2 linked regions of the Homo sapiens genome follow. The protein of the gene in region 2 interacts with the protein of the main gene of each other region in a pairwise test. Each region holds a gene or a part of one and is shown on either strand. Other genes may lie near its edges.

Region 1 (3,651 bases), on a different chromosome or scaffold from region 2:
CATCCTCATTTCTGTCTGACTTTTTTGCTTTTCCATTTCTCTAAAAACATTTCTATACAATACTAATCCTTCTTCCACCATTTGCTTTCACTTCAGTGCCAGTATCACAGAAGGTTCCATTCCATATTCCATAAACAAAGCTAAAGGAAGTCTTGAATAATTGGAACCCTTCTGGCAAATTGTCTAATGTCAATTTTTTCCTGCCCCTGTTTCTTGTACATCTTATTCCTTACTGTCTGGCACAGAAGCACTCATCTCCATCAAGTCATCTTCTATTAATTCCTCAGGTGTGGTGTCTATTAGCTCTTGAATTTCTCCAAGATCTGTACCTTAAAACTCTTCACCCTTCACCTTTTTTGCCATATCCACAATCTCTTTCATGATTTCCTTAACCAGCTCTGTCATAAATCCTATGAAGTCACGCACATCTGGACAGAGTTTTCTCCACCAGGAATTTATTGTTTCAGGCCTGATGGCTTCCACAGCTTTTTCCATAACAATGGCATCTTCAGTGGTGTAATCCCTCTAGACTTTCACTACATTCTATCAGGATTCTCTTCCTTGGTGTTAACAATCTTTTCCAGAGTATCCCATGTAATGAGTCTTGAAAGTCCTGGACCAGGTGCGGCAGCTGAAGCCTGTAATCCCAGCACTTTGGGAGGCTGAGGCAGGCAGATCACTTGAGGCCAGGAGTTCGAGACCAACCTGGGCAAAATGGTGAAACCTCATCTCTCCTAAAAATACAAAAATTAGCCAGGCATTGTGGAGCATGCCTGTAATTCCAGCTTCTCGAGAGGCTGAGGCATGAGAATTGCTTGAACCTGGGAGGCAGAGGTTGAAGTGAGCTGAGATCACCCCACTGCACTCCAACCTGGACAACAGAGCCAGACTCTTTCTCAAAAAGTCCTTGAGACCTCCTGATCTACAGGCTGGATTAGAGACACTGTTTGTGGACAAGTAGACCACTTCAAAGCCTAGTGTTGAACTCATGGGATTCTCAGTGGCCAGGGGCATTGTGTCAAAAAAACTTTAAAAGGCAGTCCTGGCCGGGCACGGTGGCTCATGCCTGTAATCCCAGCACTTTGGGAGGCCGAGGCAGGCGGATCACTTGAGGTTAGGAGTTCAAGACCAGCCTGGCCAACATGCTGAAACCCTGTCTCTACTAAAATACAAAAATTAGCTGGGCGTGGTGGCAGGCAACTATAATCCCAGCTACTCGGGAGGCTGAGGCAGGAGAATGGTGTGAACCCAGGAGGCAGAGCTTGCAGTGAGCCGCGATCGTGCCACTGCACTCCAGCCTGGGCCACAGAGCGAGACTCCTCTCAAAAAAAAAAAAAAAAAAGAAAATGGGTTCTCATTATCCAGGCTTTCTTTTGGTAAAAACAGACTGGCAGCTGGTGTTTTATCTTCTCCCTTGAAGGCTCAGAGGTTAGCAGCTTTATAGACCAGGGTAGTCCTGATCATAAACTTGACTGTGTTTACACAAAACGGCAGTTAACCTAGCTCTTCCTGCCTTAAATCCTGGCACTCACTGCTCTTCCTTACTCATAAATGTCCTTTGTGGCATTGTTTTCCCCAGAACAGGGCATTTTTGTCTGCATTAAAAACCCATTCAAGCAGATATCCTTTCTCCTCAATGATTTTCTTAATGGCATCTGGGAACTTGTTTGCCGCCTCTTGGTCAGCAGAAGCTGCTTCTCCTGTTACCCTGACATTTTTTTAAGCCAAACCTCTCTACAGTTATCAAACCATCCTTTGCTGGCATTAAATTCTCCAACTTTAGATCCTTTACCTTCCTTTTAAGACACAATGACTTTTTCTCGAAAAATATTAGAGTCTATAGTTATGCCTTTCTTATAGCACTCTCGCACCCACGTAAAAGCTGCATCTTCAATATGAAATAAAAAGGTATTTTGGCCAGGCACAGTTGCTCATGCCTGTAATCCCAGCACTTTGGGAGGCCGATGCAGGCAGATCACAAGGTCAGGAGTTCGAGACCAGCCTGGCCAACATGGTGAAACCCCGTCTCTATTAAAAAGACAAAAATTAGGCGGGCATGGTGGCACCCACCTGTAATCCCAGCTACTTGGGAGGCTAAGGCAGGAGAACTGCTTGAACCTGGGAGGCAGAGGTTGCAGTGAGCCAAGATCACGCCACTACACTCCAGCCTGGTCAACAGAGCAAGTCTCCATCTATGAAAAAAAAAAGGATATTTCACAACCAGTCGTGGTGGTTCATGCCTATAATTCTAGCACTTTGGAAGGCCAAAGTGTGACGACTGCTTGAGCTCAAGAGCTGGAGACCAGCCTGGGCTACACAGTGGGACCCGTGTCTCTACAAAAAAAAAAGTTATTTTAATTAGCCAAACATGGTGGTAGACACCTGTGGTCCCAGCTACTCAGGAGGCTGAGGAGGGAGAATCACTTAAGCCTAGAAGGACATGGCTGCAGCGAACTGTGATCGCATCACTACACTCCAGCCTGGGTGATGGAGTGAGACTGTCCTAACAAAATAAAAGAAAAAGAAAAAAATGTGCTAAACTGGACTTCATAAAATTTAAAACCTTTTGCTCTTCAAAAGACACCATTATAAAATGAAAAGATAAGCCACAGACTGGGAGAAAATATTTGCCAATCACATAGCTGATAAATGACTTTTATTCAGTTTATAAAGAACTCTAGGCCAGGTGCGGTGGCTGACGCCTGCAATCCCAGCACTTTGGGAGGCCGAGGCAGGCAGATCACAAGGTCAGGAGTTTAAGACAAGCCTGGCCAACATGGCAAAACTAAAATTTTTAGTCTCTACTAAAAATACAAAAATTAGCTAGGCATGGTGGTGGATGCCCATAATCCCAGCTACTTGGGAGGCTGAGGCAGGAGAATCACTTGAACCCGGGAGGTGGAGGTTGCAGTGAGCCAAGATCGTGCCATTGCACTCCAGCCTAGGCAACAAGAGCAGCAAGACTTTGTCTCAGAAAAAAAAAAAAGAAAGAAAAAAAAAAGAACTCTTGGCCAGGTGCAGTAATCCTAGCACTTCAGGAGGCTGAGGCAGGCAGATCGCTTGAGCCCAGGAGTTCAAGACCAGCCTGGGCAACATTGTGAGACCCCATCTCTAAAAAAATTAATAAAAAAATAAATAAATAATCCTATAACTCAATAAGGCAAAGAAATCAATTTTAGGCTGGGCATGGTGGTTCACATCTGTAATCCCAGCACTTTGGGAGGCCAAGGCAGGCGGATCACTTGAGGTCAGAAGTACGAGACCACCTGGTCAACATGGTGAAGACCTCATCTCTACTAAAAATACAAAAAATAAATAAAAAAATAAAAATACAAATACAAAAAATTAGCTGGGCATGGTGGCGCATGCCTGTAATCCCAGCTACTTAGGAGGCTGAGGCAGGAGAATCGCTTGAACCCCGGAGGAAGAGGTTGCAGTGAGCCAAGGTCGTACCACTGCATTCCAGCCTGAGTGACAAAGCGAGACTCCATCTCAAAACAAAAAAAAGCAATTCTAAAACGGGCAAAAAGAGGCCGAGCACAGTGGCTCATGCCTATAATCCTAGCATTTTGGAGGCCAAGGTGGGCAATCACCTGAGGTCAGGAGTTCAAGACCAGCCTGGCCAACATGGTGAAACCCCATCTCTACTAA
Region 2 (3,651 bases):
AAGCCTCCCTTCTAGGGAGAGAGAGAATTCAAACACACAATACAATAATAAGGCAATCTCAGACAGCGCTACGTGCTAGGAAGAAAACACACCATGGTAATGGGACACAGCGTGATGGGCGGTGGGGGCCTCTAGATGAAGTGGTCAGAAAAGCAGACCTCTCTGGGGAGGTGACGTCTGAGCCAGACCTGAATGACTATGGGGCAGTGACCTTCTAGAAGGCAGAGAAGGAGGCTTCCAGGCAGAGGGAGCGGAACGTAAAAAGACCCTAAGATGGAAAAAAGCATGTCAGGTTTACGGAAGCACGAGAAGGCTGGTGTGGCCTCTCTAGTGAGCACAGGGGAAAGACGCTCCATGCCGTGTTTGCAAATATGTGTGCACGTATGTGCCTGGGGGGGAGGGCAGTGCAAGGCCTCTGGGCCATGGGAATGAGTTAATAACCAGTGAATTAAGTATTCTTCAGGTAACTGATAAATGTTGCCAATTATCCCCTATGTCTTAGATCTGCTTAGTATATTTTCATTTCCAGCGAGCTCACAAAAGTCTCCTATAACCAGGCAAATATACTTCCAAAGGTAGCTCCTTTTCTAGTCTGTCTCCTGCCACCAGCTGGAATGAAATTAATTATGAGGTTAAGCAGAAATACAAAAGCATCTACCCAGTCAGGAGTATCCCATGTCTTCCTCCTGAAAAGATGGCCAAAGAAGTCAATATTTAGCACCCCAAAGTGCCACAGGTGTTTTAAAGCATGGGAGGAAAAGATATTTCTATTTTCTAGAAGGCTGTGATTAAAAATGAGATTAAGATGAACTCATCCTCTCATATGAGATGAATAATATTAACACAAATGTGTCACCACAATGCAAAACCTGTCTTCGATGCTGTAATCACAGTTACCTCCTCTGCCAGTATCTAATTCCCATAAGGGACAGACACAGGCTTCCAAGGACTTGAATCTTTCTAAAAAAATCCATAGTTTCCCAGCCAAATAAATAAGACCCAAGCAACTTATGGGTCTGTTCCACATTAGACATACACTATTAAAAAAGGCCAGTGAGGCCAGGCACGGTGGATCAATCCTGTAATCCCAGCACTTTGGGAGGCCGAGGTGGGTGGATCACCAAGTCAGGAGTTCAAGACCAGCCTGGCCAATATGGTGAAACCCTGTCTCTACTAAAAATACAAAAATTAACCGGGTGTGGTGGCAAGCGCCTGTAGTCTCAGCTACTCGGAAGGCTGAGGCAGAAGAATTGCTTGAACCCAGGAGGTGGAGGTTGCAGAGAGCCGAGATCGCACACGCCACTGCACTCCAGCCTGGATGACAGAGCGAGACTCCGTCTCAAAAAACAAAAACAAAAACAAAAAACGCCAGTGAAATTGTCTTCCACAAGTAAAGAAAGAAACAAGCTCAAACAGGCAACTGAGGAACTTGCCACGTTGGTGTGTCATGGCACAAGAACAATTCATCTGAGAGCGTTTCACAACAGGAGACCAGGAGTAAGCTGATGATCTACTGACCACTGTATGCTGTGCTGTATTTGGCTGATGTGGGAATAACTAACTTTCCCAAATGAGAAAAACTGTGTGTCTGACGGCAATCAATCTACTGAGCACGTGCCTTGTTCATTAAGTACCCGTGAATAGTGTCTAGATATTTCAACACTGCTAAGTACTTTTTTAGGAAATCTGATTTTCATAATGTTGAGGCAGTAATATTTCTGGAATTTATTATTTTATAAACTGGCAAATGGTGTTTGGGTCAGTAAGTATGGACACTAGTGCTATTGTTTATCTAAGGAGTCTTGGTCCATTCTTGGTAAAAACACTCCAGAAAACAGAAACTGATGGCTCCTTTCTGAACATGCTACTCTGTATACTTCAGCCCTAATGCTGGCAACTTACTCAGTGGGGAACACTTCATTAAGATCAGGGCCATAGGGCTGGGCATGGTGGCCCACATCTGTAATCCCAGCACCTTGGGAGGCTGAGGCGGGCAGATCACGAGGTCAAGAGATTGAGACCATCCTGGCTAACATGGTGAAAACCCGTCTCTACTAAAAATACAAAAAATTAGGCTGGGCACGGTGGCTCACACCTGCAATCTGAGCACTTTAGGAGGCCGAGACCGGCGAATCACGAGGTCAGGAGATCGAGACCATCCTGGCTAACACAGCAAAACCCCGTCTCTACTAAAAATACAAAAAATTAGCCGGGCGTGGTGGCAGACGCCTGTAGTCCCATCTACTATCGGGAAGCTGAGGAAGGAGAATCGCTGGAACCCGGGAGGCAGAGCGTGCAGTGAGCCGAGATCACGCCACTGCACTCCAGCCTGGGAGACAGAGTGAGGCTCCCTCTCAAAAAAAAAAAACAAAACAACAACAAATGATCAGGGCCATAGCAAGGCTGCCCACTCTATTACTTCACACAGAACTGGAGGTGTTAGCCCAGGCAGTTAGACAGAGTAAAGAATGAGAGCATAAAAACCGGGAAAGAAGTCATTTCTATTTGCAGTTGATAGGACAGTACGCCTGGCAACCCTAAAGAATCAATGAAAAACTAATGCAAACAGAAAAAGAAATCAGTTAGGCGGCAGGATAGAAAATCAAAGTATGCAAATCAACAGCTTTCATATACCCAAGAGAAGATGAGCATCTAGCCTCTATGTAATGTAAAATAACAAAGTCCTTTTCCTGTGAGTTTCTACCATGTCTGTCTCCCCCAGCCAAACTACTATAGAAGGTTGTTTTAAATCTAAATTTATATCAGTCGAATTACATCTTAATGCATTCATCCCAGCCTTCCAGACTGTCGAAAGTTTTGAATTTTGCCCTTTGACAGATTAACAATCTCACTCAGCTGTGTATCTTGTACAGACAAGGCCTTCTACTCACTGTTCCAAACAATCTCTAAAAAACTGTGACCAGAGGCCGGGCGCAGTGGCTCACGCCTGTAATCCCAGCACTTTGGGAGGCCAAGGCGGGCAGATCATGAGGTCAAGAGATTGAGACCATCCTGGCTAACACGGTGAAACCCCGTCTCTACTAAAAATACAAAAAAATTAGGTGGGCGTGGTGGTGGGTGCCTGTAGTCCCAGCTACTCCAGAGGCGGAGGCAGGAGAATGGTGTGAACCCGGGAGGCAGAGCTTGCAGTGAGCCGAGATGGCGCCACTGCACTCCAGCCTGGGCGACACAGCAAGACTCCGTCTCAAAAATAAAAAATAAATTAAAAAAAAATAAAGAAAGAGTAAGAAAAAAATTACCCAAAGAGCATATGTAAAAGTACCCATGGTAAGGCAAAGCCTGTCCCTTTCTGTCTTTTTAAGTCCTATCTACCCTAAAGGCACTGCTCAAATCCAACTAGGGCCAGAGGCCCATGATTCCCAAACCTCAATCATCCACTGACCATCTTCAAGAAACTATCTTTCACTCAAATGATTCCTTTTTTTTTTTTTTTTTTTTTGGTGACAGTCTCACTCTGTCGCCCAGGCTGGAGTGCAGTGGCGCGATCTTGGCTCACTGCAAGCTCTGCCCCTCCAGGTTTAAGCAATTCTCTGCCTCAGCCTCTGGAGTAGCTGGGATTACAGGTGCGTGCCACCATGCCCGGCTAATTTTTTGTATTTTTAGTAGAGACGTGGTTTCACCATCTTGGCC

Evidence for each region. The genes of interacting proteins can lie anywhere in the genome.
Region 1: the proteins of TAB1 (region 2) and MAPKAPK5 interact in a two-hybrid assay, tested with the Homo sapiens proteins (one large-scale study listed by BioGRID and IntAct).

The regions. Positions count from the first base shown.
Region 1 is NC_000012.12:111,848,591-111,852,241, reverse strand, and holds part of MAPKAPK5 (MAP kinase-activated protein kinase 5), read right to left. Parts: intron 1-3,651. UniProt on the Homo sapiens protein: Tumor suppressor serine/threonine-protein kinase involved in mTORC1 signaling and post-transcriptional regulation. Phosphorylates FOXO3, ERK3/MAPK6, ERK4/MAPK4, HSP27/HSPB1, p53/TP53 and RHEB.
Region 2 is NC_000022.11:39,406,207-39,409,857, reverse strand, and holds part of TAB1 (TGF-beta-activated kinase 1 and MAP3K7-binding protein 1), read right to left. Parts: intron 1-3,651. UniProt on the Homo sapiens protein: Key adapter protein that plays an essential role in JNK and NF-kappa-B activation and proinflammatory cytokines production in response to stimulation with TLRs and cytokines.